Regions from separate parts of the Homo sapiens genome. Here regions 2, 3, 4 and 5 are each linked to region 1. The links come from fine-mapping of genetic effects on gene expression. A gene starts in region 1. Each other region holds a variant in brackets. All regions are shown on one strand. Distances are between the middles of the regions. Region 1 holds the start of STX6 (syntaxin 6). Region 2 overlaps STX6 (syntaxin 6). Region 3 overlaps KIAA1614. Region 4 overlaps MR1 (major histocompatibility complex, class I-related). Region 5 overlaps STX6 (syntaxin 6).

Region 1 (6,043 bases):
CTCCAGGAGTTTACTGTTTGGTGGGGATAAATGACATGCTAACAGCTAATTTACATTCACCCTAAATCAAATCCTCCTCTTGTGTTCTCTTTCTTGATGGTTGGAACCAACACTACCCATTTACAACCCCAGAAGCCTTCCTCCCTCTTCTTTCATCAATTCCCCCATACCCTGAACCAATCAGTCACCAAGTATACTAACTTTGCCTCTAAAGTATGTCTCAAATGCATCACTCTTCTCCACCTTAGTTGTCACAAGCCCAGCTCAGGATACCCTCATCCCTCCTCTGGACCATAACCTCCTAGCCACTGAAGCATCTGTCTCAAATGCCAATCTGACCCTGTCAATTCCCTCAGTCCCCATGGGGAACTGTCCATAGGAAGCGTCCACTATTCTGAACATTACAAACAAGGGCCCTGATAATCTGACCCTGTCCACCTCCAGGCTTAGCTCCTGCTGCCCCCATCCTTTTCCTTCTACTCCAGCAACATGGCCCCCTTCTCCTGGCTGCTTCTAGTCACTGCTTAGGAACCCCCTGCCCCAGCCCCGAAAACACACAAATATACTGGTATCTTGTCGCTGTGTTTCTATGGCAACCTGTGCCCTTCTCTCACTGTGTGTCTCTCCCACCAGTCTGTCTCTCCCACCAGTCTGACAGTTCCTTGAAGGCAAGAACCAAGCCTTGTTCATGCCTGTGTCTCAGTGCTTAGCACACAGTAGGAGCACAACATGTGTCAGGCACTGTTTTAAGCACTTTTCACACATCACCTCATGACACTCTATAAGGAAGCTGTTATTACGGTGTCTATTTCACAGTTGAGGATAGTGAGAGATGAAGCGGCTTGCCTGAGATGCAACAGTCAGGAAGCAGCAGAACTCAAGCAATCAGACTCCAAGGATGGTCTTCAACACCATGCTCACCTACCCCTCAATTTACATGTGCTTGTTGAATGAATGAACGATGACACGTTTTCACCTCCCCAGCTAAGTAAATTAAACAGTTCTCTCCCAATAAACATTAGCAATCACTAGTATTGGACACTGCTTCCTTTCCCCACATCTGCCTTCCATCATTCGCTCCTCCAGGGATTTTGGCTTTCACCCCTCTCTTCTCTCCCCTCCTGAAACCCATTCAGCCCCTCATCATGTCTAGGTGTTTAGTCTTGTTTTCCTTTTGAAACATCTGTCAGATTCACTCCTTCTCTGTTCTCAATCGCTGTCATCCTGGTCTGGACCTCATCCCTTCAGGCCACATGACTTTAGCAGCGTCCTTACTGGTTTTCCTGACTTCAGTAACTTAGTCCTTTGGGATCTTGAGGTTTACACACATTTTTATTTAACCATCACAACAACCCATGAACTAGCTATTATTATTTATGTTTTATAGATGAGGAACTGAATGATAGAGCCAAGGTTTAAACGGGGTTTGTGTTGCTCCAAGGACTGTGCCAGCTCCAGACTGGTGACCTTGGGCAAGTCACTTAACCTCCGAGTCTCAGATTTCTCATTTATAAAATGGGCATGATAGCAGTAATTATCACATTGTAAGAGCAACTGAGATAACACTTAACATCCTGCCTGACACACACACACAGTAAGTGCTCAATGATTTTCAGCAATCAAAGTCCACAATCCCCATCCACAAATTTCATAGCATATCTAGCATATGAGTTGGTTAATGGTTCTGGGCAAAATGTTTTCTCGAATAGCTCTTGAACCACAGTGAGAGGAAGTTGTCATACCTGGCCCCTTCTTTATTCCTCGAAGGTGTGCTCTCCTGGGAAGCACCATATGCTGTATGAAAAATTACTTTACATGGTTATTTGCAGAATGTACAGCAACAGAAAGTACACCCCATCTGGTGGAAAGTGCACAGAATCTGCAGTTCTGCCCTGTCCAGGCTGTGTGACTACAGGAAGTCTTCAAGCCTCTCTGAACTTATTTTCTTATCTACAAAATGAGAAAAATGGATGGTGTGGTGGCTCACGCCCATAATCCCACCACTTTGGGAGGCAGAGGCAGGAGGATCATGTGAGCTCAGGTGTTCAAGGCCAGCCTAGGAAATATACTGAGAGCCCCATCTCTATAAAAAATTTAAAAATTAGCCGGGCGTGGTGGCGCTCACCTGTAGTCCCAGCTACTCGGGAGGCTGAGGCCGGAGGATCGCTTGAGCCCAGGAGGTCAAGGGTGCAGTGAGCTGTGATTGTGCCACTACACTCCAGCCAGGGTGACAGAGAGAGACCCTGCCCCCCAAAAAGGGGGAGGGGGGAATAATACTTTCCCCCAAAGGATACTGAGATGATGCATACACAACCTTTAGCACACTGTCCAACACAAAGCAAGACCTACTTAAAGGATCTGTGTAACATTATAATCAGATACTATGCTTCATTTTAAGTCGAGGACCAGATAGATTTATAAATTACATACTGTCAAAATTAAGTATTAAAAGTAGAGGAAAGGTAAGAGGATTTTGCAAATCAGGTACAACTACAGCTTATCCTGAAAAGCCGACTGCCTAGTTCTGAGGGAACAAGCCACTCCTCACCCTCAAGCTTGAGGAGAGGGCTGTAGAAGCCCGCCCACCTCCACCGCCCCGAGGGCTCCGCCTCCAGGGCCGAGGGACGCAGGCGTAAGCCCCGCCCACTGGGGGGGGGGGGAGAGAGAGAGAGAGAGAGAGAGAGAGAGAGAGAGAGAGAGGAGAGAGAGGAGAGAGAGGAGAGAGAGGAGAGAGAGGAGAGAGAGGAGAGAGAGGAGAGAGAGAGAGAGAGAGAGATATATGCCCTGGTCACGTGAGCGGGGTGCGGAAGTCGTGTTTCAGGCGGCGTTCGTGATTGGCCGCGGCCGAGGGTCCCGGGGGTGGGGTCAGGCCCTCCGACGCTTCGGGAGGAGCCGGGACTGGAGGCTGCCGAGGGGGCCGGCGCCCGAGTCCGGGATTCGGCCAGTGGTGCTGAGCGAGTGCTGGACCAGCGGCCGTCCTGTGCACCTGGCCTGTGCGCGTGCCCGCTGCTCGGCTTCACCCAGACTAAGGCGCGGGCAGCTGCGGGAACAGGCGGGGTGGGCGGAGGGAGACCGGGAGGCACGGGCGCCCTGTGCGCGGAGGAGGTGAAGGCGGCCGGGGCCGGGACGCCATGTCCATGGAGGACCCCTTCTTTGTGGTGAAAGGGTGAGTGTCGGCCGAGCGCTCCACCGGAGGAAGAGGTGGCGGTGCTGCCTGCCCGCACCTCCTAGGTCTTCTCGCAGTGGGGGGAGGGGAGGCAAGTTGGAGCTGGGGAGGGGGAACAGTGGAGACGGCTTAGTCTTGAGGGCCATGACCAAGCGTCAAGAGACGTTCCCTCCATCCCTACCTGGACCGTGAAGCCACTGTCCCCAGCCAAGCCCCTGGTGGTGGGGGGCCCTTTTTGGCCTGTGTGCTGCGGTACAATTTATTTGGGGGCCGAGGGGCTCAGCAGCTCTGCAGGTGGGGAAGGAGACACGCGGGTCCTGGCGCACACTGGCCGTCTAGTCGAGCATGGGATCTTGCTTCGAAGGAGCGAAAACAGCATCTGGGCAGGAAAAGGGAAATGGCCCTCCTGAGCTTTGTAGTTCGCGTTGACGGGGGTGAGCTCCATTGTCCATTGAGTTTGGAGCGCTTGTCCGCAGACTGGCGAGACCACAACAAGCCCAGAGGCGTCTGAGCACGTTTGCTGGGAGGGAGGCGGGGGCGGGGGCCGTTCTGGGAGGCTGGGGAGCAGGGCACCGGAAGACAATTCAATGGGGGAGTTTTTACTGAGTAATGTGAGGAGAGGAAAGCAGTCGTTCATACTCAGTGATGATTTGGAAGGAAAACAAAATGAAACAAGCCAAACCAAACTTTCCTCAGCTTTCTATTAGCAACCGGAATTTTCTCACAGTGCTAAAGGAAATGAGTGTTGCTTGTTAACTCCTTGATTTCATCCAGGTTGTTTGACAGGTTTCTCCTATTTCTTCTGCCTTTCAGAATAGAAAGGACTGCCTTCTGTTCCCTTACAAGCTATCCTAGCTCATCTTTGATTGCTCGATTGTTTCTTTGGAGATAGAGTCTTCAACTGCACTTTGTAATATCCACTTCGTAGCCATTAAACACATGCAAGAAGATCAATTCTGATGTAACTTTTAGTTTCTTATTAGAAACTTGTCAGTTTTCTGTTTTAAATGTCAAACATGAAAAATCTGAAAACTGCAAAGTTCCCAGGTCAGTACTGATCACCACAGAATGTCCCTTGCTTTTTACTAGTTGCTGCTAGCTTCCTATTTCTGTAGTGGTGCAAGCTGGCCGTTGTATAGTCAAGTGTTGTAGAAAATTTAAATGGTATTTTAGGTGAAATACTTTATCGATTATGCAGTAAAATACATTTATACTACTTCTTAATATTTCCCTGGAAAGTTTTTTTTCTTCACCTTACTCTAATTTAGATGGGAAAATGCTGAGTTGTAAATTTACTGGTAATATGTGTATCCCTACCTAGAAAATGTGATATTTATTAGAAGGATTGATTTAGGGGTTAATTTTTAAAATAGATGTTTTTTCCTTGATTGAAAGTTCTTAATGCTTAGGTTGGCAAAGGTTATCTCTGGCGGTAGAGATCAGAGATGATCAGAAATTTTTTGTTTGACTTTTTATGGAATTTGTCAAAAGCCTAAATTCTTCTGTCTTGGCATTTTTTTTTCTTGATGGTATCCTATACAGTCTACTAATGCTTGCTCACTGATTAAATATCACTACTTTATCGGAACATTGGCTTGGAGGGAGTTTTGATTGATTTTTACATCATTTTAGCTCCTATCTTTAAGGTTCTTGAAGGAAAAGAGATTCTCAGTTCCTTCTGCTGTGGAAAGGTAAAGTCACCCATGAAGGTGTATCCAGATTTTTGGGGAGTCATGTACCTGTGTTTATTAAAAGTATCAAAAATGCATTACACAGCATGCAAAAATTAAAGGTGCCTAAATTATGGCCCTTAGCCTAGGAGCTTCTGGTCTAATCTGAGAAACAAATTACCCCAAAATTAAATAGAAATGACAGGTGGCAAATGAATGAGTGTTGAAGTGAATGCTACAGATAAGTGCCTCAGGAGTTCAGAGAAAGGTAACTCCTTGGGAATTGTTAGGATTAGGAGAGCTTTTGGAGGCAGTAGTGTATCTTGAATTAGGTTTTGAAGATGGGCAGAATTTAGATAATCAGGCCTGTCTCTCTTACCTGGATGCTTATCAGAGTCTTTTTAATTGTTCTTCCTGCTTCTGGTCTCATTTCCTCTTTCAGCTGTCCTGGGATCTATTGGATCATTGCTGTCCAATAGAAGTATAATGCCAGCCATGTATGTCATTTTACATTTTCTAGTAGCCGCAGTAAAATATAAAGGAACAGGTGAAATTAATTCTAATGTAATCTCTAATACATTCAAAATATTCAACATGTGATTAAAGATTATTGATGAGATATTTTACTTTTGTACTAAGTCTTCTAAATCTGATACATATTTTACACTTACTGCACATTTAAATTTGGACATTAAATTTTCATCAGAAATAATTGATCTGTATTTAAAGTTCATTAAATACATTTTTTTTTTTTGAGACAGAGTCTTGTTCTGTTGCCCAGACTGGAGTGCAGTGGTGCAATCACGGCTCACTGCAACCTCTGCCTCCCAGGTTCAAGCGATTCTTGCACCTCAGCCTCCTGAGTAGCTGGGACTATAGGTGTGTACCACCTCACCTGGCTAATTTTTGTATTTTTAGGACTATGGGCAGGGCACCCGCCACCACGCCCGGCTAATTTTTTGTATTTTTTAGTAGAGACGGGGTTTCACCATGTTAGCCAGGATGGTCTCGATCTCCTGACCTTGTGATCCACCTGTCTCGGCCTCCCAAAGTGCTGTGATTACAGGCGTGAGCCACCGCGCCCGGCCTACATACTCTTTAATTGTTCCAAACATACATAAAAGGTTTTTGATAACTGAATTGCTATCAGTTACCAAGTTTACATTAATTAAAATTTAATTTCTGTCACACTAGCCACATTTCCAGT
Region 2 (6,043 bases), 47 kb after region 1:
GTCTTTTTGATCTCTATTTTTTTCATTCTAGAATTTCCATGTCTCTGCCTACATTATCCATGTGTTCTTGCATGTTGTTTACTTTTTCCATTAAAGCCTGTAGCATATTAATCATAGTTTTAAAAATTCCTCTTCTGATAATTCCAACATTCCTGCTGTATCTGACTCTGGTTCTGATGCATATGCAGTTTCTTCCTACTGTTGCTTTTTCCTTTAGTGTGCCTTTTACCTTTTTGTTGAAAAGTGGACATGATATACTGGGTAAAAGGAACTGTGGTAAATAGACCTTTACCATAGATGGGGTGGTGAGGCCGGGGGGTGGCATTTTCTAGTCCTGTGATTAGGTCTTAGCCTCTGGTGAGCCTGTGCCCCTGGCCCGTGAACTTCACTAGTGCTTCCCAGTTTTTCTACTGTTAGGTGGAACTGGATGGCTAGAGAAGACTGGAGTTGGGTATTTTCCTTCCCCCAGGTTAGTCAGACTCTGGTTAGTTTCTTTTGAGGGCAGACTTTGTTTAGAACAGAGTGCTCTGGAGTATTTCGTAGTGATTCTTTTTCCCCTCCGCCTGCTGGAAGCATGAGGGGATTTTTCCCAATATTCGCTGAGAACCTGGTCAAGCTCCTGGAGGTAAAACCCACAGAAGTGTGGGGGTCCCCTTCGCCTGGGTCCACCTGGAGTGTTTTTGTTTGTTTGTTTTTCATCTCAGACTTGTCCACACTGAGCCTTCAGCGACTCATCAATTAAAGCTAAGGTTTTCCTACCAGAACACTGGTTCCTATGGAGTTTGTTGCTTCGTGGGTTTCTGCTCTGATAAGCTGTGATTCTCTGTATGCATCTGTAGGTTTCTGCAGTTTTAGGGGCAGCAGTTTACCATGTGACCTCACTTCTCTGATGGATCTAAGAAGAGTTTTGCTTTTTCAGTTTGTTCAGCTTTTTACTTGTTACGACAGAGTGATGACTTCTAAGCTTCTTACATACTTGGCTGGAAATTAAAAATTTAACATTTTTAATCAGATGAGAGAATGCCAGTTATAAAAGTTTTCTTGACCATTGAAGTAATAGTTAAACAGGTCAAAGTGTGACCTGCAGTAGGCCATCTCTGCCTTCCCTAGACCTTTGGAACAGTCCTACCTGAGAACAACGAGTGATGGACCTGGGGTCTTTGTCCTGCTCAGAGTTAACTAAATGAGTTTCTAGTATGTCTGAGGTAGACCAAGGTGATCACCACTTAGAAGGTACTTGCTTTACTTATAATTTGGTGGCAGTTCTCTTGTCCAGTTCTAAGACTTTGATATCCATAATATTTAAAATAATTTTAAGTACATGTTTTGCCTTGTGGAGAGTTTAGCAGTTTATTTTCATAGATTGAGATCTTTTTGCAACGTGATTCTCAATAACTATAGTGTGCTAAAATCAGTGGGCTTTCAAAGAAACTTTAGTGAATCAATATGTCTTTATATTTCTATTTAAATGGAACTCTTATTCCTAGTGGTTGTACTGCATTTTCATACGCTAGTGAATTCTGTTATCAGTCGGGCCCTTTGTGGAAGATGCCAAAACTCATCAGTGGAAGGACTGCTCATTTTTTCTACATGTCTCCAAATTAAGGAAGCATCCTGATGTTGACAGCATCCTCTGTGCCCTAGGTTTGGGTATTGCACAGTGTGTGTATGACAGGGTTGTGTTGTTTAATTCTCACAACAGCCCTGCGGGGCAGCTGTTGTAGAGTTGGGACCACAGGATTGTGAGCTGCAGCAGGGCTCCCCCAGGGCCTGTCTGGGCCCTTCTGTCTCACAGGGCCTCCCTGCTCTCAGCCATTTGGATGGACTCTAGTCAAGTTGTTTCCTGTGCCTGCTGTTCCAAATTGTTGGTAGGGCAGAAAGTTTCAGAAAAAAAATTCCACTTTCATTTACAGAGGAGCTGTACAAGGTACTTTAACACAGTTACTAGTTAAGTAATCTTACTTGACTAGGTGTGGTGTGAAATTAATCATGCTGTCTCACTGGAGCTTGCTTTTTCAGCTGTATATTTCCTGAAGTGACCAGCAGTAGCTTTCATCTCCTTTCCCTCCTCCCGTTGTGCTCATTGAGAAAAGAATGTGATTATTGTTTAATTAAATGACTTGACTTTTATGGGAGATTAAAGCAGGCAGGCTTTGATCTGTAACACCATTGCCAACACCTTTTTTGAGGATATGCTAACTACCAGCAGAAAGCTAAGATCCGCAGATTTTAATTAAAGACTTGAGACACAAAGCATGTAATTATTACGAGACATTTTCAGGGGACTGGCAAAGTTGTGACTGCATGCGAAGTGCAGGCCAAGAACAGAGCAGCATTAGAGCATCAGGCACCTAGGCAGGTGTAAGATCATGGCCCCGTCATTTGCACGTTCTGCCCCTTTTCTGCTTCAAAGGGTGCCATAAATTCCATATAACTGTATCTTGGGGAATGTGGAGTCCCTGTGAGAGCTAATCCCCATGTCCTGCCTTCCAGATCGGCGCCAATGGTGTGCCATAGCCATCCTCTTTGCAGTCCTGTTGGTTGTGCTCATCCTCTTCTTAGTGCTGTGACGGCGGGGCCTCTGGGTGCGAGTTCCTCCTGCATATGAACCGAGGGGAGGAGGAGAAGCTGAGCACGTGTGACATTGCCGTCTACTCACATTCCTATCCTGGAAACATACTGCTGCACTGACTTTTCTCCGTGTGACCCCACAATTGACATGGCTCCTCCATCCCAGCGCTGGAAGGGCCAGTGGGAAGAGGAAATAGATGTCTGCACTCCTGGCTGCAGCTGGACAACAGAAGCCCCATGCCGCCTGTCCAGTTCGGAGGAGAACTAGCTGCTGCCTTGCCTTCCGGGACCTCGTTTGCTGAGGAGGGACTTACAGACTCCACTGGTGTTTTGCTGTTGCTCATTCCATGCATCTTTGGCAGCTCTTTTCTTCTGCTCAGACCCTTCCCCGTGCTCAGACAGTGCACCGCTGTCCCATCTAAAGAAACCTGTCAGGAATACGAGCTTCTGGGTATGTTTCGTTTCCCATTGCTGTAGCATTTCTTATCCCCTGAGAGCTGATGATTATTGAGGACAGAAGGCTCAGAAACAGTTTGTGACAGAAAATGCAGTGTTTCATTTTTCAGGGATAAATGCTAAGATAAAATTGCTTTTCCAGGTCATTTTTTTTTGTGGTAAGAATAACTAATGGAAAATAATGAAACACCCTGGG[G/T]TTTGGGGGTGCTAACAACTTGTGGCTTTAACTGACAGGAGCAATTAAAAAGAGCAAGAGGGTTCTGCATTGGCATAGCTTAGGGAAGGGTTAATGATGTCGCCACAGGTCAGCTCCTGATCCTTGCCGACTTGATGTTGCTGTACCAGGGCTTCCTCCCCAGAGGTGCAGCTTGCGTTTTGAGGGTGATTGCTACATATGTTGTTGCTAAACAGCTCAGTAACACACTTGAATGAATTTGGATACCAGATTGTCCTCATTACAGTTCTTTTACTCTTAGGGCACTCTACACTGGGGGTTGGGGTTGGGAGTGGTTAGTACATTTATTACATTTATTAAGAAACGTAATGACATAAAAGGTTAGCTCTGGGCCAGACTTCTCTTACTCTGTGGGTAATGGCAAGGATGTGTAGGTAAACTTGGTTCTTTTTTTTCCCTAAGATGACAGCTTGATTTTATCATCTGCAGTCAAATAACTGAGCCAATCCAAATTTAAATGATAGATGCTTTAATTGAGTTTAAGTAGCTGAAACTGCTGAGACACTAAACTTTAACCTTCTGATGACTTTTTAAAATGCCTCAAATGTGCACATGTATATAGGATATTTTTATAACTTCCCTGATGAATAATCTGATATTAAAGTAGTATTTGGACCCAGAGCCAGAACTCGGTGGTGGAGGCTGCTGGTCTCTCCTCACCACCTTCTTTTGCACTTGGAAAGAACAGCAACATCTGGATAGAGTTCTAGCTTTGACTTCTCATTTCCTTGTCTTTTTGGGTGCATTCCTCAGCACACTTTTTTTTTAAACCTTTTTGTTTTGTTTTGTTTGTATTTCATGTGGTTTTATTTGGGGGTTTTGGTTTTTTCACCCTTTTTTGTGATTTGCAATGATGTGCTTGCCCAGCTAACTTTTGAATTGCACTTTTTAATAAATATTCTTAACAATTTTTGAAGAAGGATATTTTATCTCATTTGAGATCATGGTAGGTTAAGAAAATATGCCTGTTGATGAAAGCTAAAAGCAAATTTATGAAACTAAAAGGGTGATTGACATCCATGTTTACACTCCGCTCTAATGTTTGATATATAAATAAGTTATTTTCAAATTAGGAAAAAACAGTGAGTATTACAAAGGGCTTCAGATGTTTAGAGTACTAGGTTATTTATGTTTTACAAAGTTTGAATCTTCTATAAACTAAGAAAGGGGATGATCCTTAGATTTGCATTAAAATATAGAAGTCTTTTAAAGTAAATGTGAACCTTGTCTAAGTACTGTAATCCACACAACACATTATAAGAAGCAAACCAGCATCTTAAGGAATTATAAAATTACCCTATTTAAAAGCCATGCTATTGTTCTGCTATTACCAGATTTATTGTGCCACACAAAAGGATCATGTGTGTCAGCAGGGGCCGTTTGGAACAAACCTAGTCATTAATGAGTAAGATACTCCTGTTAGTTCAGGGACCAAGTTTTATGACCCAGAGGCTTAATGATGTTTGGATATATTTCAAATCGGCGTGCTTACCTCACTGATTTAAATTATTTTCTAAATAGTGGCCATTGTAGACCTGACTCAGGCTGAAGCTAAATAGAGAACAATTTAGAAAGTTAACTAACAATACAGTGCATTCTACCCGTAGGGCCACCATGCCCTTCTGCCCCTGGCTGATTTGATCCTGTGTCTGATCCCATTGCACCCTGACTGGGCAGTCCCTACAGAACCAGTGTTAATTTGAAGGGCCTCCACTCAGGCTCCAAATGTGGCAGCCAAAGAGAACAATCCAGGGAACCTACATTTATTTTTAAGGACAAATATTTCCTCCTCAGTGGTCCTAATGTTCAGGGCTTTAGAGGGAACCCAGGTGGTCTCTTCACCCTGTGTCCTAGAATGGGAGAGTAAGTAGACAGTGGTGATAACCCCACACTGCTTATAAGTGCATCTTTATAGTATTTGGGGCTTTCCTACCCCTTTAGCCTTCTGTACCTAGTACCATATTCCAGTTTTAAAGAACTGGCAGAATGTGATGGATAACAGAGGAAGAGCTCAATTTATGTTTATTGGAAGAACATTTTACTTAAATGATTTGAGGGGTGGGAGGGAGTGAACTACTGAGTTTGCCAGAGTGAAAATCCATCTGAAAAACTCAGCTACCTTTAGTTTTTAGTCCTCATTTTTGGTCTTGTCTCTGCGGACTGTGAAGAATCACAATGCTCTATATGCCCTGGACTGTGTGGCAAATGCAGGTTGCAGCGTGTGTGTTACATGAGGATCTTCCACAATTTCAGAATGCACGCCAGAGCTGAAGGGGGAAACTTGGTAACTTGCCCATTATTCTCTGCTTTTAGCCAGAGTTAAACAGACTGATGGGTCTGGTAGCCAACAACTTGGCAACTTCCACTCCTTCTCACCTCGTGAGATTAAGGGCTGTGAAAAGAAATCTAGTCTAACTCCAACAGAAATCTGTCTCTGTTAAGTGTTTTACCTTCTGTAAGTAGAGATGGTAGAGCCAAGATTTTTCTTTTGGTAATTTCCCTGTCTATAAAGTGAGACCAAAGGGATATCTGTTCCCTGTTACCTTTTTGGAGAATTCATAACATTTGAAGATCAAAAAATTGAATGATAAATATGAATGGCTTTTCAATTCTGTGGACTTTGTACCATTTGGCTTCACCTTGTACTGCAAGATGAATTTGTAAACAAAACAAAATTGGACTGTCTGGAAAGCTAAAGTTCTGAAATATGGAATGTACTGCCTCTAATTTTTCTTTGTCTTCCTCTCACTGGCATTTTTTTCTCTCCCAGGTTTCTTAAGA
Region 3 (6,043 bases), 72 kb after region 1:
CTCCCTCCCGGGACACCGGGTGCCAGCTGCGGATATCTCTCGCCGCCGCTGCACCCCGCAGCGACAGAGGGGGGCCCCCGGGAAAGAGGGGAAAACCAGCCGCCGCCCGGGACGCTGGTTCTGCGGGTGGCTTCTGAAAATGCCCCCAAGCCCCGAGGAGACTGAGGTGCCTGAGGCAAAGGGGTGCCACTTTCTGCTCCGTGTAGTCCCAGTGTCAGGGGCCTTCTGTGAACCGCGGGAGGGACATAAGTTAGACACCGGGAATACCCACACCTTTGCATGTGGCTGCTTCGTTTCTGTGCCTGAGCCACTTGGCCCTTGCTGTAGCTTCCTACTCGTTTTACAAAGCCCTGCTTGTGCTCACCTGCCCGGTTGGCGCCCTTGCCAACTACCCGGCCAACCACGAATCACGGCCCCAGGCTGTCCACAGGCTACCCACAGGCTACACCGGCTGCAGCTCCTCTTGCAGCATACCCTGCATCCGGCGCTGTAATGTGTGTGTGCCTCCCCCTGGGCTGGGGCCCCTTGAGGCTGCGGGTCTTTCTTAAGTCCGGGGGCTCTTGCCTGGCCTAGGCCTGGTTCCTGGTTAATAAGCTCTCAGTAAGAAGGTTCTGATGGCCCAGGCACTATGGCTCAGGCCAGCACTTTGGGAGGCTGAGTCGGGCGGATCACATGAGGTCAGGAGTTCGAGACCAGCCTGGCCAACATAGTGAAACCCTGTCTCTACCAAAAATACAAAAATTAGCTAGACATAGTGGCAGGCGCCTGTAGTCCCAGCTACTTGGGAGGCTGGGGAAGGAGAATCACTTGAGCCCAGGAAGCGGAGGTTACAGTGAGCTGATACTGTGCCATTGCACTCCAAGCCTGGGCAACAGAGTGAGACACTGTCTCAAAAAAAAAAAAAAAAAAAAAAAAAAAAAGGTTCTGATGTTCCAGTGTGTGAGGCAGGGCTGCCCTAGGCCTTCGAGGTCAGCAGCTCCCCAGGCAGGCAGATGCAGGCAGTTGGGGAAGGTCAAACAGGAGGCTGGAGGAACCAAAGCCCCCTCCCATTTCCACACAAGGCAGGGCCTGCACATCAGGCTGCCCCAGGGAGAAGCTGGGATGCCAGCGCCTTTGCCTCCTTGGAATTAGGTCACCGTCCAGAGGCCTGGGAGCCTCCAGTGTCCCGCGTGCCTCGTGCCCCTCCCCTAGCACCAAGCCTTTTCTGGCATGGGGAGGCAGCTGCAGTGGGAAAAGTGGGCCCCAAGTCAGAGGGGCAGGATTGCATGCCCTGTCACTGCTGCTGAACTTGGTTCCCCATCTATGCAAAATGAAGACAATGAGCAGGACATACCTGGCAGGACTATTTAAGGACTAAGTATGTCACCAGCCCGGGAGGTGATACGCCTGAGGCCTTTTCCCGTCCTCCCAGCCCCAGCCACCCCCTTCCACCTCCTCCCACCTGGGAAGGCAAGTTGTCCTTTTCAGAGAAAAGTGGAGCTGTCTTTGGCCCCCAGGAGCTTTTCTCAACATGAAATTTCTCCAGTTTTGTGACCTTAGGCCAAGAATTGCAGTATAGGAGGAGCCAGGGTTTCTCCACACTTGAAGTTTCTTGCTGTGGGCTCATTTCTACACTTTGAAGAGTGCCAGTGCCCTCTTCACAGCCTGAAGCCCCAAGCACTTGTTCCTCTGGCCCCTCTGCTCACCTGCCAGATCCCCCTAATTCCTCCTCCACCCCCCTACCCCATTCTGTGAGCCATGGGGCTCAGCCCCTCCCTCTCCTCCCATGGGCATCATGAAGACAGGGTTCTACCTGGCTCCTGCTGCAAAGGCCCTGGGTGGGGGAACACACTCCCAACACTGCACAGGACTGCCTCCCCACCCCCACGACCTTGTCCCTGGGCCACAGGCCTGCTTCAGTGTTCTTGCCCAATGAAAGCTGCCCTGACACTCTTTTAAACCCGATTCTGCTGAGGGTTGGGTTTCTTGGTTCCAGGATTTTTTTTTTTTTTTAACCACAGCTGGCACCCTGGCCAGTTCTAAAACAGCCCTGAACTTCCTATTCCACTCCTCAGTTGTGCCCAGCTAGAGTCCCTTGGCTTCTTCTCTCCTGGTCATAAACCTTGTCCAGGGCTTTTCTTTTGCCAAAGGACGGTCTGGAGGCTTCTGCATCTACCCTGGCTGTCACCCTAACCCGTGGCCTCCCCAGCCTTTCCTCTGGCATGCCCACCACCAGCACCCCACTCCCTGGTCCTGCCCATGGCTAGTGAGGGTCAAGTGAGTGTCCAGCCGAGAATTTAGCAACTCAGAGTGAGAGAAGCTTTAGCTTTGCTTTTTAGTAAGTTAAGACTGACACATGGCCATCCACTCCCAAAGAGTCCCAGCCCTCCAGGCAGCACTGAGGCCCAGGCAGATGGCCCAGCCGCGCTCTGCAGCTTCCCTGCTGCCCACCCACCCACCTGCCCACCGACAGCACCGCCAGGAGGTCTGGGCAGAAAGCATGCAGCTGTGATGGCCAGGCACCTGCC[G/A]CAGCCCTGTCTCCAAGCTGGACAGAACTAAGATGGAGGCTGCCACAGGTCAGGTTGCAGCAACTCTTGCCTCCACCTGGGCAGAGGCAGCGGCCGGGGTGGCATGGGGCTGGTCTGGCCGGTCCCACTAGCTGGATCCTGGCTACCACAGTAGCACGTCCTGAAATTGGTCTTTGTTGTTGTTGTTGTTGTTTTCAACTTTATGTATAAAAAAATTTTCCTAGAAATTTTTAATATTCTGGCTACCAGATAACATCTCCCAGAATTCCCACACCCCGAAGGGGCATAAAACTCCTGCCAGACCACACGTTCTGATTTTGGTTTGGCATATATGGTCAATGGCTGTAAGGCTGGTATTCCGGGACACTTTGCCCATTTCTGGATAAAGGGCAAGGGCAGTGAATGGAGTAGGGAGGAACGTGGCTGAAATAGGGAAGGGTCAAGGCCAATATGGACATGTGCTTTCTTTGGTTCCACAGTGTTGGAGGCTGTAGCCTTTGACCAGGCATGGGACCAGGAGGTGAGGCCGGCTCTCAGGCATCAACCAAAGGATCCACTGAATCTCCCTTCTCCCCCTGCCAACAAAGGTACAAGTAGATGTTGACACCCCCTCAGACATGGAAGGAGACCCATTTTTTTCTTTTTCTAGTTCTGGATAAATGGCCTTAAACAAAATATGCAAACAGGCTCCTTGCGTCTCCCAAAGGCAGCCCACCACAGAAGCCCTGCCACAGCCCAAGGGGTTAGATGCTGCCAGGATCTGTTTCCGCCACAGAGCAGCTCTGTGCAGCACGTTCCTGCCAACCACCCTGAGTGCTTCAGGGCTTCCGAGGCCGTGACAGTGAGGGCAGCGGCACTTCTGGGTCACCGTGGGACAGGTCTCTGCCTCAGGACACGGATTGACAAGCTCTCTGAGTGGGCCAGGAGCTCCTTAATGTGAGCCAAGCCCAGCCCTGCCACCTTGGCCCCGTTCACCTCGAGGATCTCATCGCCCACCCCCAGCAGCCCTGAGTACAGCTTGGCCATGCTCATGTCAGCCATCTCCTGCACGTAGATCCCTGCAGAGGAAAACAGGAGAATTTCACAATGACACCCAAATCGAAGAAGTGCATCTCTGGAATGCTGACCATGTTGATGAGGTGCTGTTTGTGTGGCACAGGGAGGAGGTGCTCATACCAGGCACTTCTCTGTGCGCATGCACACATACACACACCCCTCATTATTCCATCTCACAACCACAACTGGCTTTAGACATAGATACAGTGCGCCTCCTCCATGGTCTAACTCCATTCCACTGTCTCTGCTTTTAAAGTGGAAATGCTCCTAGTGCAAATAACGCGTTAAACTGTTGTCATTTATTTATACCTGACAGTGAGTGAGCTAATCTTTTTCTGAGATGAGCTTTTCTTGTAGAATTGGGAGGAAAATAGTTTTTAAAAATTAGGAACCATACCTACTCAGTGCCTGGCACTATGATCCAGTTGCTGCCTCAGGTCACCCAGGCCCAGCGTAAAGGCCGGGGTGGTGGGAAGGTATCATCGGAAGAGCAAAAGTGGCTGAGCCACATCCAAGCCTGGTTTGCTGCACTCTATTGCCAAAGACTGACACTGGCCTCAGTCTTACTCAGATATGGCTCCTCAATTGGGATGGGGAAGCATCTGAGCAAAAAACCCCAGGAAAAATAAAAATTCTAGCCACATATTTCAAAGCTGCGGTGGCTCCCTCTCCTCTTCTGCACATGCCCCCTCCTCCCCACCCCAAAGAGGCCCTGCCTGGGTCTAGAAGGTGCCAAGAGCCAGCCTGCGGGAACTAGCTTCTCTGCTTCTTTGCCAGGCTCCGGCTCTCAGGGAGCCCCCCGTCAGTGGGGCAGGCCCTGTGGGGCTTGGGCTGGCTGGGCTGGGAAGTGTCCAGCTGAGGAGGCCCCCTGCCCCCAACCCCCGCCCGCCGGCCTCAACCGCGGCTGGAAACCTTTCAAATTCCCCTCCAGCTGCTCCCACCTGGGAGAGTAAGTGAGGTGCTGGCTCTCCCAGGGCAGGCTGGACCCCCTGATGCCCATGCTTCATGCTGGGTGGACACAGGGGCTGAGACACAAGCTGAGTTTGCTGGAGGGACTGCGGGGCACACCCCTGGTGTGGGCATCAGCACTGGCGGAATTCAGGCTGCTCAGCGCAGCCTTTGGCACCCTCGCTGTTCGCAGCCCAGCTCGGCTCACTCTGCATTTCAGACATGAGGCCACTGCCCACGCGTTACTGTCTTCACTTCCTTTTCCTCGAATCAGGTTCTTAGCAGGGGCCCGAAAGGGCATCAGGTCTGCTCCTCAATCTCTGGCTTGAAACTAGTCACCACATCTTGGACTAGTGGGAAGTCCTCTCTCGGATCCCCCAGCCCCGTAGGAGCTTTGGGCAGCCCAGCCTGTGGCCCTGACAGAAGTCAGGCGTTTTAAAGCCTGCCTCTGAAGTGTGGGTTTGAAAGAGCACTGATCTTCACCGAAGTACCTGAAAGTCTGTGGCTCTGAATTTAGTAAATCCAATCTTTGTACACATTCCCCCTCCCTGGTCTGAGGTGTAGAATCCCTTTTGTTGCTTCTTGGCCAAGCCGAGCCTTTTCTGTGGGGCTGTCTTCCCTGACAGAGTACATCTGCCATCCTGACTGTACAAGGCGTTTTCCCTCAGCCCTGTCTTTTACCTCCTCTAGATGGACCTTTCACTGCTTGCCCTCCCTGTCTACGGGTTGGTGGCACGGGGAGGGGGCAGGTAAGAAGGGGCCCCTGGGGCAAACCCAGAGAAGTGTCTGATGTGCTGTGGGAGTTGCAGGTGGGGACTAATGATAAACCCTGAAAGAATGCTGCCAGAGCTAGGCCAGACACTGACGTCACGCCTGCCATTTTGGGGAGACTCGGGTAGGTTTCGCAACTGAAATTCGTGACACAAATATGACAGCCTGCTGTCATAGGCATTTATTGTCTGCTGGAAATGGCCTTTGTTGAGGATGTGTGATCTCTATGTTGTATCCAATTAGAAGCAGAAGGCAAAGCCTGCTGTTCTCACAGGCTCATATAGAGTCGGATGTGAAAGCCAGCAAGTTAATACCAGCATCCTGCCGGTTCAGTGCGGGGCGCAAGCCAGCCCTCCTCACAGCCCCTTGGAGCCTGGAAGAAGCGACCCTCTGCTGTTGGAGGATGGCCTGGGACACGGAGGCCCCAGCACTCGCCAGGCTTCATGTGCGTGGGGACCCCTGTGTGCCATCCAGCGCCCATGATGGCAGCAGGACCAGGGAGTGCCTGGGCACAACGGGGAGCTGGCACCAACTCAGGCGAGGGTGCCGGGGGCCCTGGGTCACTAGAGACCCCTGCCCATCAGAGCTCCCTGACGGGTGACAGGGAGGGGCTCCCACTGCCTACAAGGGAGCAAAAAGGGACTCTGGGGGAGGGTGGGCGGCAGAGTACAATGACCTGTTGTGTGTGCACTCACATCGACAGGTGAATGCGGATCACGCTGGTCCCTGTCTGGGGTTCTCTTCCCCAGACTTTCTCTTTC
Region 4 (6,043 bases), 25 kb before region 1:
ATTGACGGAATGGAAGAATTTGCCTCAATAGATCCCTAAAAACAAGGTGCCCTTGGAGGTACTCCACTCTGTCAAGACAAGGGGAACTGTCAAATCTTGTCAAGATGCTGCTCAAAAGTAACCAGGGAAAGTTTTCGTGGGGGCTCTAGCCATGAGATCACAATAGGCCAACTAAAGAGATGGCTTTCAGGATACAGTGGATATAACCTAGATTAAAAGAGTTACGTATAAAAACAGTTGTTCAGGCAATGTGGGAATGAGGCCTTCTCTTTCTCTTTACCTGTTCTTTGTAGGGTGTCTTTCCCATACTCCAGGAATCTCTTTAGCCAGGCAATACATTCTTCTTCCAGCCAATTCTTTTGATACAGCAACTCATGCTGATTGGCCTCCCATGCCTGCTTGATGGTGTGAGCCACATTATCTACAGCCAGCCAGGAGAGGGTGTCTTTATTGAAGATCAGGAAATCCTGCCCGTCATATGCATACTGCAGAAATCCTGTGGTGCTTCCATCCTCCAGCAGCTCACAGCCAATCATTCTCTGGTAAGTGTGAGACCCTGGAACACACACAGAAGCCCAGAGGGGTCCACACAGAGACAGAGGTGGGCTCTCAAGTGCTGGGAGCAGGGGCATGGCTGGAAGCATCCTTTGGTCTACATTATGTCACCCCCCAGGCCTGCCATGGCATCGCTGAGTCCCCAGGAGGTCCCCCTTATGGAAGCCCACCTGTCAGCAGGTATCTGTGAAGTACCTACTGCCTGTCAAAGGAGTGTGCTAATTCCCGCCTTGGGGAGTTATCCTGTAATGGGAATGACTGATAAACTTTGTGGCTATTCTGACTGCAGTGGAGGAGGGAGAGAGATGCAGGAGCCAGAAATACCCCTGGGAAAGTTACTGTCGATACTCATAAGCAAGTCACTAGGCCTGACTACCAGGAAGTGAGACGCAGAATGGGCAAATTTAGAATGGAAAAGGAGATGCATATCAGAAGCCTGAGTGGAAATGGGATGCAGATACGGATACAGAGATGGGGAAGAGTGGGTGGGGCAAATGACAGAGTGCTCCTGGGGGAGAGAGGGACAGTCCAGAAGATGCACAGGCAGATGGGAGGCCCTGAACTCCACCAACCTGATTCCTCAGGCTTTGCCAAAGCTACAGCAGGTGCAATTCAGCATCCGCTTATTGGAGGCCAGCCCAGGGGTCTCTGCGGGTTGGGGTGGGATGGGGGAAGCGTCTGTCTCTGCCGCATGCACACCTGAGTGATTGTAGTGCCTCTGTAGGCGCTTCAGTTCCACCTTGAACATCTGCTGCCAGCCCCTCAGCAGCTGAGTGTACCTCTCCCAGTGATCAGGCGCGAGGTTCTCTGCCATCCATGGGGCCCGTGGCTCCTTCTGCCGAGTGACACTGTCATATGTGGTGATAGGGTGCGAGTCCACGTACCCAACCGAAATAAATTCAGGGACCCCATGGATGGGATCCGAAACGCCCAGGCGAAAATATCTCAGAGAGTGCGTCCCTGGAAAGGAGGCAAAGAAGGAAGACATGTAGGGTCCCAGATGATCCAGATCCTTCAACTGCATTCATTTAGCCCCACACGAGTGCTCCCTACTCAGCTGTACCCAGGCCTCCACGCCCCAGCTGCCATTTCCTCTTACAGAACCACAGAACCCAGGAACCGGGGCCTGGACAGGACGTAAGAGCTCCAGACCAGTGACTTGGAGCCTTTCTCGTTCAGGTTTGCAAATGCAGGATGGAATTTTATAGGTAATCTCAACTTGTAGACAAAATATAGAGTGCTGCTATGGTTGTAGGGGGAAGGGAGAAGACCACTCATTGGGGATACAGGGGGAGCTGTCCCTGCGGGAGCCCTCGGGAACTCTGAAGGCTTGAAAACCCTGATGACGCAGCCTTCTTCTTTTACCAAAGAAGCCTCTGGTGAATAAATGAGGACCCCCACTCCACCTCTGTGTGTGCACGTGTGGGCATATACACACAGGCACACAAACACATGCACTGAGCATTTTTTTTTTTTTGAGATGGAGTCTTGCTCTGTTGCCCAGGCTGGAGTGCAATGGCACGATCTCTGTTCACTGCAACCTCCGCCTCCTGGGTTCAAGTGATTGTCCTGCTCCAGCCTCCCAGGTAGCTGAGATTACAGGCACACACCACCACGCCTGGCTAATTTTTTGTAGTTTTAGTAGAGTCAGTGTTTCATCATGTTGGCCAGGCTGGTCTCAAACTCCTGACCTCATGATCTGCACACCTCGGCCTCCCAAAGTGCTGGGATTATAGGCATGAGCCACTGCGCCTGGCCGAAATTTATTTATTTATTTTATTTTATTTATTTTTTTGAGATGGAGTCTTGCTCTGTTGCCCAGGCTGGAGTGCAGTGGCACAAACTCGGCTCACTGCAACCTCCGCCTACCGGGTTCAAGCAATTCTCTGCCCCAGCCTCCAAAATAGCTGGGATAACAGGCACTGGTCACCACGCCTGGCTAATTTTTTTGTATTTTTAGTAGAGACAGGGTTTCACCATCTTGCCCAGGCTGGTCTTGTACTCCTGACCTCGTGATCCACCCACCTCGGCCTCCCAAAGTGCTGGGATTACAGGCGTGAGCCACCGCGCCTGGCCTATTTATTTTATTTATTTTTTATTTTTTATTTTTTAGAGACAGAGTCTCACTCTGTCGCCCAGGCTGGAGTGCAGTGGCATGATCTTGGCTTACTACAACCTCTGCCTTCTGGGTTCAAGTGATTCTCCTGCCTCAGCCTCCTGAGTAGCTGGGACTACAGGCGCGTGCCACCATGCCCAGCTAATTTTTGTATATTTTTAAAGTAGAGATGGGGTTTCACCATATTGACCAGGCTGGTCTCAAACTCCTGACCTCGTGATCCGCCTGCCTTGGCCTCCCAAAGTGCTGGGATTATGGGCGTGAACCACCGTGCCCAGCCTATTTATTTATTTTTTTGAGACAGAGTCTCACTCTGTTGCCCAGGCTGGAGTGCAGTGGCGTGACCTTGGCTCACTGCAACCTCTGCCTCCTGGGTTCAAGTGATTCTCCTGCCTCAGCCTACTGAGTAGCTGAGATTACAGGTATGTGCCAGCATGCCTGGCTAATTTTTGTATTTTTAGTAAAAACAGGGTTTTGCCATGTTAGTCAGGCTGGTCTCGAATTCCTGACCTCATGATCTGCCCACCT[C/T]GGCCTCCCAAATTGCTGGGATTACAGGTGTGAGCCACCATGGCCGGCCGAAATTTTTTTTTTTTTTAAAGCACAGTGCTTTTCCTATTATGTCAAACCACTGCTGTTAACCATTTTCTTATTCTTTTTCTACTTACTAGTTATAAGGATTGTAATAAGGGTTAAAAGTAAACCAAAATGAAACAAAACTGTTTGGCCCTCCCTGCTGTTCCCACATTGAACTTCTCTCCGCTTGTCCAAGAAGCTTAGGGCCTGACGGAGACAAAGTGGTTTCAAGGTGGCATTATGGGTGGTGGTGTGTCCGCAATTGGTGGGTTCTTGGTGTCACTGACTTCAAGAATGAAGCCGTGGACCCTCGCGGTGAGTGTTACAGCTCTTAAGGTGGCGCGTCTGGAGTTTTTTCCTTCTGATGTTCGGATGTGTTTGGAGTTTCTTCTTTCTGTTGGGTTGGTGCTCTCGCTGGCTCAGGAGTGAAGCTGCAGACCTTCGCAGTGAGTGTTACAGCTCTAAAGGCGGTGCGTCTGGAGTTGTTCGTTCCTCCTGGTGGGCTCGTGGTCTCGCTGGCTTCAGGAGTGAAGCTGCAGACCTTCGCCATGAGTGTCACAGCTCATAAAGGCAGTGTGGACCCAAAGAGTGAGCAGCAGCAGGATTTATTGCAAAGAGCGAAACAACAAAGCTTCCACAGTGTGGAAGCGGACCCGAGACGGTTGCCACTGCTGGCTCGGGCAGCCTGCTTTTATTCTCTTATCTGGCCCCACCCACATCCTGCTGATTGGTAGAGCCCAGTGGTCTGTTTTGACAGGGCACTGATTGGTGCGTTTACCATCCCTCAGCTAGACACAAAGGTTCTCCACGTCCCCACCAGATTAGCTAGATACAGTGTCCACACAAAGGTTCTCCAAGTCCCCACCAGAGTAGCTAGATGCAGAGTGTCGATTGGTGCAGTCACAAACCCTGAGCTAGACACAGGGTGCTGATTGGTGTTTACAAACCTTGAGCTAGATACAGAGTGCCGATTGGTGTATTTACAATCCCTTAGCTAGACATAAAGGTTCTCCACGTCCCCACCAGACTCAGGAGCCCAGCTGGCTTCACCCAGTGGATCCCCCACTGGGGCTGCAGGTGGAGCTGCCTGCCATTCCCGCGCCGTGCGCCCGCACTCCTCAGCCCTTGGGTGGTCATGGGACTGGCGCCGTGGAGCAGGGGTGGCGCTCATCGGGGAGGCTCGGGCCGCACAGAGGCCCATGGAGGGGGTGGGAGGCTCAGGCATGGCGGGCTGCAGGTCCCCAAGCCCTGCCCCGCAGGAAGGCAGCTAAGGCCCGGCGAGAAATCGAGCTGCAGCGCTGGTGGGCTGGCACTTCTGGGGGACCCAGTACACCCTCCGCAGCCGCTGGCCCGGGTGCTAAGCCCCTCATTGCCCGGGCCGGCAGGGCCGGCTGCCCCCAGTGCAGGGCCCGCCAAGCCCACGCCCACTTGGAACTCCAGCTGGCCCGCAAGCGCCGCCCGCAGCCCGGGTTCCCGCTCGCGCCTCTCCCTCCACACCTCCCTGCAAGCTGCGGGAGCGGGCTCCGGCTTTGGCCAGCCCAGAAAGGGGCTCCCACAGTGCAGCGGTGGGCTGAAGGGCTCCTCAAGTGCCGCCAAAGTGGGAGCCCAGGCAGCGGAGGCGCCAAGAGCGAGCTAGGGCTGTGAGGACTGCCAGCACGCTGTCACCTCTCAGTGTTATGGGATCCAAGCTGGTGTGGGCCCTTAGGAGAGACTTCCAGAGAAGGTGATGTCTTAGGGAGGTCTCAGGGACAGGTAGGAGGTGAGTAGGCAGAGGGGCTGGGAGGGGATGCAGGAGGGCGGGCAGGGGGAGCAGGGCAGAGACCACATGTGCAAGCAGGAGGTTCGAGAAGGCGGGGCGTGCATGGGAACCAAATGGCCTGGGACGTCTGGAGCACAGTGACAGGCGTCACGGGCAGAGGCGATGCCTGGGAGGTGGAGCCCAGGCTGAGAAGGCTACGTACCCCATGCCATCCCCAAAAGCTGGCAAATAGAAGGTATGCAGCCACAATGGCTTTCTTCCCCTACTCTGCCTGCCGGTGTCTGCAGATGCCCATGTCCAAGCCTTTTGTCCTGTTATCTCCTGCCATTCTGACCCATCTAAATCCTTCCCAGTCCTCAAAACCCACCTCCAAAAACATTTCATCCCTAAAACAGGATCATCCCTAAAATTTCATGGCTAAATTGAGATGACAGATGGAGGCTCACATACCAGAGATCCAGATATTTAAAAGGAATAAATCAATCTAACAAACTTGAAATATGTTCTATCCCCCCACCTTGAGAGATTGCCCTTTGTATGGCTTCGAAGACCAAGTTCAAATTAAAAAATCTCACACTGTGTGAAGTTCTGGGCCTGAATGGGGCGGCACAGAGAAAGCTGGTGTCTCCCTCCAGTCCCCGGCCCTCAGCCTGAGACTCACCTCTTTTTCTTCCTGTTTCTTGCTCCTTCCAGCACTGCCAAGGGCCTCCCACAATTAAACACCTCTACTTTTTTATTCAGGCTCAGCCACAAACTGCCTCTTGTCTGAGCTTGTCCTGGGCTTAAGTGATCCTCCCACCTCTTGGCCACCCCTCAGGCCTAGCAAGGCCCTCAAGGGCAGCCAGTCCACCTTTAGGAGGATGGGCCAAAGTGCGAGTTTGTTGTGTAAACCTCAGCAGCTCTGAGTCAGCTGAGTGGGGAACTCCAGGTTCCTGGGTGCCTGGAGTCTGGTCTAGAGTGGAGGGGCCCAGACACAGGGTTACCACCTCCCCTCAGCCTCACGCACTCCTCGCTCTGTGGGAAAGGATGTGGGTAGCAGA
Region 5 (6,043 bases), 31 kb after region 1:
TCTTCATGAAATCCACCGTGAGTGAAATCTCATCCACTTATGAGTGAGAACATGCAGTATTTGTCTTTCTGTGCCTGGCTTATTTCACTGAGCATAGTGACATCCAGGGGAACTGCATCTTTAACAACACTCACGTGACTGACTCAGGCATGTCATCATGATGTGAACTCCATGTGGGCAGGGGCCTAGCTAGTATCATTCACTGCTGTATGCCTGGCCACATAGTAGACATCAGTGAGTGTTTGCTAAATGGATAGATGAGTGGTTTGAAAGTTGAATCAGGTGGTTCTCACTCACATTTACCACAGTTCTGGGATTGTAAAAGCGGTGGCACTGTCTCATCTGTTTACTTGTCATGGGTCTTTAAAGAAGTTTCTAAAAGTCTTACACTTTGATGTTTGCATAAATTATATTTTGACGACCTTTTAAAAACTGTTGTTGCAGTCATGTATTCAGTTCAAATCATTCTATAGTAGATTGGATTGTAGCTAAATAAGCAGAATGACTCATATTTAATAAAGTGTTTTGCTTCAGATAAAGTAATGGATCTATTCACTTTTCATTCCATACAAAATTATTTTTGACACCACTCTGGAAATTCACTCTGATGTTAGGAATAGTCTATACCTTTCATGAATCCAACTCAGAAATAAAATAAGTGACCTGTTGTACCACTATTTGGAAGTATTCTTTGGTGTTTAATGGTAAATATACTTTATACTAAAAGCACATGGTTTTTTACATATATTGTAAAAAAGATGCAAGCCCTTGAACACGTGCTTTTGTGTTTGTACCCCAGGGATGTTCTTTATTAGTGATGTGACTTTGAGAAAGTATCATCGTCTTTTTGGACCTAGGTCTCCTCAACCTTAAAATGGAAATAGTACCAGCTTCACAGGGTCCTTGTGAAAATTCAGTGATAATGTGTGTATGTGTTTAGCACTGTTTCTGACCTGTGGTAGGTACCTGGTAAATGTTAATTCCTTTCTCTTTCCTCCTATTCAAATTAGTATCCAGGTTACTTCTTTTTAAGGGACCATCTTTCTTTTTATTTTATTTTCTTTATTTTTGAGACTGAAAATAAAGCCAAGAAATGCGGTCTTCTTTTTAAAAAGTAATAATAAATTGTGTGTTTTGCTAATGTATGAAATGTTAACTGTGATTTTGTTTAAGGATATTTTTCATTTGTTTTCGTATCTTCTTTCTCATTAGGACATGAAAGATCAGATGTCAACTTCATCTGTGCAGGCATTAGCTGAAAGAAAAAATAGACAGGTGAGAAAACATCAGAATATAATTATCAATGACAGAAAGCATACAGTTAGATATTTGGAATTTAAAAATGCTGACCATCCATGGATCATGTAATCAAGAGGAAGACTTCTGCTTGCAGGCCCTGGTGTGACCATGGGAGGTTTTGTGACAGTCCAGGCAGCCTGTCCCAGCACCCTGTCAACATTTCCCTCCCCTCCTCTTACCCTCTGGTCTTCTTCTCTGGGCTCCATAGCACCTTTTGCCTACCCTTACTATAGCACTTATCACAGAGTACTTTTACTTTTTTAATGTGTTTATTCTGTACCTATTGAACACATTTTGTGTGCCAGGCTCTTTGAAGGGCTATAATTACTGTCTTTCTCTCTGCTGGGCTCCAGGCCCTTTGACAGTGAGGAGAGATGTGTGTCATGGTTTTTTGTTTCTTGTTTGTTTGTTTGTTTTGAGCTCTCTAGCAGTTACTACATTGCCTACCCATGGAACACATTAGACATCTAAGGATTGACATTTGATGTAAAGACATTAGAGGAACCTTAAACTTGTGTGTTAAATTAAGTTTCTCTTTGTTTTAAGTAGTTTTAAAAGAATTACATACTTTGGCATATTGATAGAAGCTCCTTTCTAATTGTTAAAATACAGTCCTTTTAAAAAATGTAGAATGATCATCTAGAATTTGGACTTTCATTTAGATTGAGATTTGATTTAGACTTTTTTTGGTGGGATAGAATGTTTTTGCCTGTTGCTAAACTGTTAGGTAATTTTTTTGACAGAAGTAGTTTTTTAAATTCTGTGGATATCCATTTTCCTTAGAAGTAAAAAAGACTTCATGAAAAATGATACTATTTGCTTTAAATGACTTACCTTAGTCTCATTTTATTAAGATTCCAGAAAGTTATGAATTGTCCATTTAGTAGGCTCTTGAGAAATTTCACTATTTATACTAACTAGCAATCAGTACTTCATACCTGTGGGTATTTGTCAAGACACTTAATTTTGAAAACAAATATTATGGAAGCTTGAAGAAGGGGCAGGGTTCTATAAATATCACCTAACTTAATTTTCCTGTTTCCTTTTCTTGCATTCCATTTTTCAAGTCATTGTTTTGTTTTTGGCTTTTTAATCTTATTTGCCTCCTTTGCTTTCTTTTTGAGCAATATAGCTAGGAAAAGCCACTAGCTGGTCCATTCCATCTGGCTCCCTCTCTTGAAAGAAGCTAGTGAATGCCCTCAAGTTGGCTAGTTTTGGAGTTCTCTTCTCATTTGCACTTGAGCTTATAGGAAGTGGAAGTAACTGAAGTAGTTGTGACAGTGAGGTCAGTAACACCTATGCTGTTACTCTTAATTTGAATGTTTTATTCTCTAGATAGTATAGTTGGGCTAACGTAAATAAAATTTATATTTATATATTTATAAATATATATATATAAATTTAAATATATTTTATATAAAGTATATATACATGTATGTATTTATATATTGCCTATCTAGTTATGGCTTGGAATTTTGTTTTAGGCTATGAGTGAAATGTCAAGTTGCAAATTTTCAAGGAATAGCAGGATCAGGGCTCTCTAAGCACTCCAGCAGGCATGGGCCTTGCCACGTTGTGCCAGGTGCCAGGCTCTGTGCTGCTCCTTGCCTCACCAGCACCCCTGCTCTGGCACCCACACACAGGTGCATCTTCCAGTCCTTGGGCCCTCTCTCAATCTCTATCCTATTATCACAAACATTTGGGATCAGACTGATGAACTTTAAGCTATTTCACAATAAAACGTGGATGATTTGCCCTATACTTAGCTCTACCTAAGTGTACACCATGGAAAACGTAGGAAAAATAGCCCTGTGACCTCAGGAGCACACAAGGCCCTGGTGGTGTCCCAGTTCTCTGTCCTTAGGCCAGTGATGCATTATAGCATTTTTCTGACCCTAAAAAAATTGTCACTATTTCCTCATGTCTTCCATAGAGGTCCTTAGAGTGTGGATCATAATGAGCAGGATCTTTTCAGTCTTGATAGCCCTAAGACCAGGTCAGGGCAGAGCCACCCACAAAAAGCCTTGGATCTGCTTTACACCAGAGACAGTCACCATCCAGCTGGACTGAAGCTCTGGGCCCCTGGAAGCTCTTGTAAGAAAAGCTTCTAATAACTGAGCTTCCCTGATCCTAGCCCCTGAAGTCTGGCCATTTGATGGAGTTCACCCCTCGCAGTCTGAGAAGAGGTCAGTGTCAGTATGGAGGAAGGTCATGGGGCTGTTGGAAGGGTTTTCAGACAGAACCAAGTAACCAGGCAGGCTTTTAATAGTGCCTGAGATTTTTTTTAAATTACCCGATAGGAAAATTTGGCAACTCTACAAGGAAAAAGAGTCTTAGTTGCTAGCGTCTTCTGGCTCTTGCCTGCGGGGCTGGTGTGAGCAGTTACTTTGACCAGTCAGGAAGGCTTGTGGGGATCTGGTCAGAACCAACTGCTGAGATGGAACTCTCACATTCCTGCCTGTCTT[C/T]TTCATGTGAGGAAGACATACCCATTTATGGCTGCAAACTTCCTTGAATTCATACTTGGGAAACCCGACCCTTGTGTCTGGGAGCCCTGGTGGAGAACTCTGACTTTAGGGCAGCCCTTGCCTCGGTTGCCAGGGTCAGGCATTCCTTGTGGTCATACCTGCCTGTAAAGTAACCCCCAGTTGTCATCTGGAAAGCCTGAAGGACCCTGGATTCTATTCATGGGTTAAACTTAACAGACATTGATGGTTCTTGTGCCTTTGTGTGTGAAGGGCTATGGCTTACCTTCTTGTCATTCCAGGGAACTCTCCCTTTCCCCCCACCAAAAAAACCCACAACTTCCCCTGGGTCACACTTTTTTTAAAAAAGTACTCTAGATCTTCGGAATCAGGTTGACTGGAACCTATGGGTTGCTGAAGTTCCACAGGTACCAGGAAGAGCTCTTTTACAAGAGATTGAATGCTTTTCAATTATAACACAGTATATAGATGGGTGTTTGTTGATTTAGCAGACGTTTATTTGCACTTTAAGGGGACAAAGCCCATTGTGAGGCCTATTGGGAGAGCTTAAAGACATAGAGGGCCCTTCCTGGAATTCCTTAAATAGTACCACCCAGGCACCAACCTACACCACTACATAAAAGCCTTGCCCAGGGGAAAATAGACAAGAAATGTGAAAACTCTTTATATCACTCTTGATGCATCACTTGTTCAGAGATAGTAATTGTTTGTTTCTCCTGACTCCTCTGGTTGTTCTTCTCACACAGGCACTGCTGGGAGACAGTGGCAGCCAGAACTGGAGCACTGGAACAACAGATAAATATGGGCGTCTGGACCGAGAGCTCCAGAGAGCCAATTCTCATTTCATTGAGGAGCAGCAGGCACAGCAGCAGGTACCCCAAGGACCCCAGACTTAGGACGGGCCAGTGGGAAACAAGACACCCCCTTAGTTCCTTTGCCAGCCATGGGGTCTTGTGGCTTAGTGACAAGGAGGGTAAGCCAGAGCTTGTCCTGTGTTGATTGTGTTTAATAATTGCATATGTAAAGGGTTTCAAAATCTTCACAGTGTGACTGCTTCAAGAGAACCAAGCTCAGCCAGGCGTGGTGGCTCACACCTTTAGTCCTAGCTACTGAGGAGGCTGAGGCTGGAGGATCCTTGAGCCCAGGAGTTCAAGGCTACAGTGAGCTTCGATCATGCCATTGCATTCTAGCCTGGGTGACAGAGCAAGACCCTTTCTCTAAAAAAATAAAGAACCAAGCTCAGTTAGTTCTCTTAGAAAAAACAGACCTTTGTCCATCTCAGCAAAGACACTTTCAGAAAGATCTCTCATTTTTTTCTTCGAAAATTATTGATTGGTTTCTTTTTTTTTTTTTTTTTTGTGAGACGGAGTCTCACTCTGTCACCCAGGCTGGAGTGCAGTGGCACCATCTCGGCTCACGGCAACCTCCGCCTCCCGAGTTCAAGCAGTTCTCCTGCCTCAGCCTCCTGAGTAGCTGGGACTACAGGTGCACGCCACCACGCCCAGCTAATTTTTTTTTTGTATTTTAGTAGAGACGGGGTTTCACCTTGTTTCTCAGGCTGGTCTCGAACTCTTGAGCTCAGGCAATCCACCTGACTCAGCCTCCCAAAGTACTAGGATTACAGGCATGAGCCACCGCGCCCGGCCTATTGGTTGGTTTTGTTATATGTAAAGATGACTGCTTTTGTGTAGGTTAAGGGGTAGAAGGAAAATGAAATTGATTATGTCTGTTGATGCCTTTGATATGTAGCTGTATTAATAAAAGCAAGCTAATGATAATGTGTCTGGGGATTTGAGGAGCATGTACCCATTGAAACTATTGATTCTTAAATATTGTGTTTTATGTATACATGTAGTTTATATGTTCTTTTGTTCTTTACATTAGTATGTCTGCTTAACCAGTTGTCTACTTAAATTGCTATTAAACCCAGGAAATTTTTTTTCTATAGAAAGTGAGAAGAATGCAACACAACTAAAAGTAAATATTTGTCAGTCAGTAGTTGTCCTTGAGGTAACTTATTGCCACAGGGAATCCTTTCGTTTGTCCTTGAAGAGAGAGGAAAGACTGCATAGTTTCCCCACATCCAGAGATTTGCCAGACTCTCTTGTATTTAAGCTGTGGCAGTCTGTTGTGGATTGAGACCTTGATCTTGGCAATGGGCTTCCTCCTCCCAAACATCCCCATGTCTCAATGGTCATCTGCACGTGTGCTTTCAACCATTGTCTGCTCCATTATTGGACGTCAGCCAACCAGAGTAAATC

The links. PIP is the estimated chance that this variant, and not a neighbour inherited with it, causes the effect.
Region 2: its variant is fine-mapped to the expression of STX6 in whole blood (TOPMed, PIP above 0.99).
Region 3: its variant is fine-mapped to the expression of STX6 in whole blood (INTERVAL, PIP above 0.99).
Region 4: its variant is fine-mapped to the expression of STX6 in whole blood (TOPMed, PIP above 0.99).
Region 5: its variant is fine-mapped to the expression of STX6 in whole blood (TOPMed, PIP 0.99).

What each region holds. Positions count from the first base shown.
Region 1 is chr1:181,019,762-181,025,804 of GRCh38, reverse strand. STX6 (syntaxin 6) reads left to right here and starts at 2,935. Exons shown (of 8, transcript NM_005819.6): 1 at 2,935-3,166. The coding sequence starts at 3,132. RefSeq lists silencers at 2,654-2,753, 2,874-3,003 and an enhancer at 2,412-3,195.
Region 2 is chr1:180,973,097-180,979,139 of GRCh38, reverse strand. It overlaps STX6 (syntaxin 6), which reads left to right. Exons shown (of 8, transcript NM_005819.6): 8 at 2,494-6,043. The coding sequence ends at 2,570. Among named protein-coding and RNA genes, the nearest start is that of KIAA1614-AS1, 21 kb to the right of the region's middle. The variant G/T (reference allele first, on the strand shown) is at 3,224.
Region 3 is chr1:180,947,862-180,953,904 of GRCh38, reverse strand. It overlaps KIAA1614, which reads right to left. Exons shown (of 9, transcript NM_020950.2): 9 at 2,291-6,043. KIAA1614-AS1 (KIAA1614 antisense RNA 1) reads left to right here. Exons shown (of 2, transcript NR_145481.1): 2 at 2,987-4,215. Among named protein-coding and RNA genes, the nearest start is that of KIAA1614-AS1, 4.0 kb to the left of the region's middle. RefSeq lists an enhancer at 3,930-4,480. The variant G/A (reference allele first, on the strand shown) is at 2,508.
Region 4 is chr1:181,044,524-181,050,566 of GRCh38, reverse strand. MR1 (major histocompatibility complex, class I-related) reads right to left here. Exons shown (of 6, transcript NM_001385161.1): 2 at 1,255-1,515; 3 at 281-556. Among named protein-coding and RNA genes, the nearest start is that of MR1, 14 kb to the right of the region's middle. RefSeq lists enhancers at 3,904-4,406, 5,725-5,964 and a silencer at 5,524-5,673. The variant C/T (reference allele first, on the strand shown) is at 3,200.
Region 5 is chr1:180,988,595-180,994,637 of GRCh38, reverse strand. STX6 (syntaxin 6) reads left to right here. Exons shown (of 8, transcript NM_005819.6): 4 at 1,213-1,275; 5 at 4,529-4,654. Among named protein-coding and RNA genes, the nearest start is that of STX6, 31 kb to the left of the region's middle. RefSeq lists a silencer at 3,669-3,829. The variant C/T (reference allele first, on the strand shown) is at 3,765.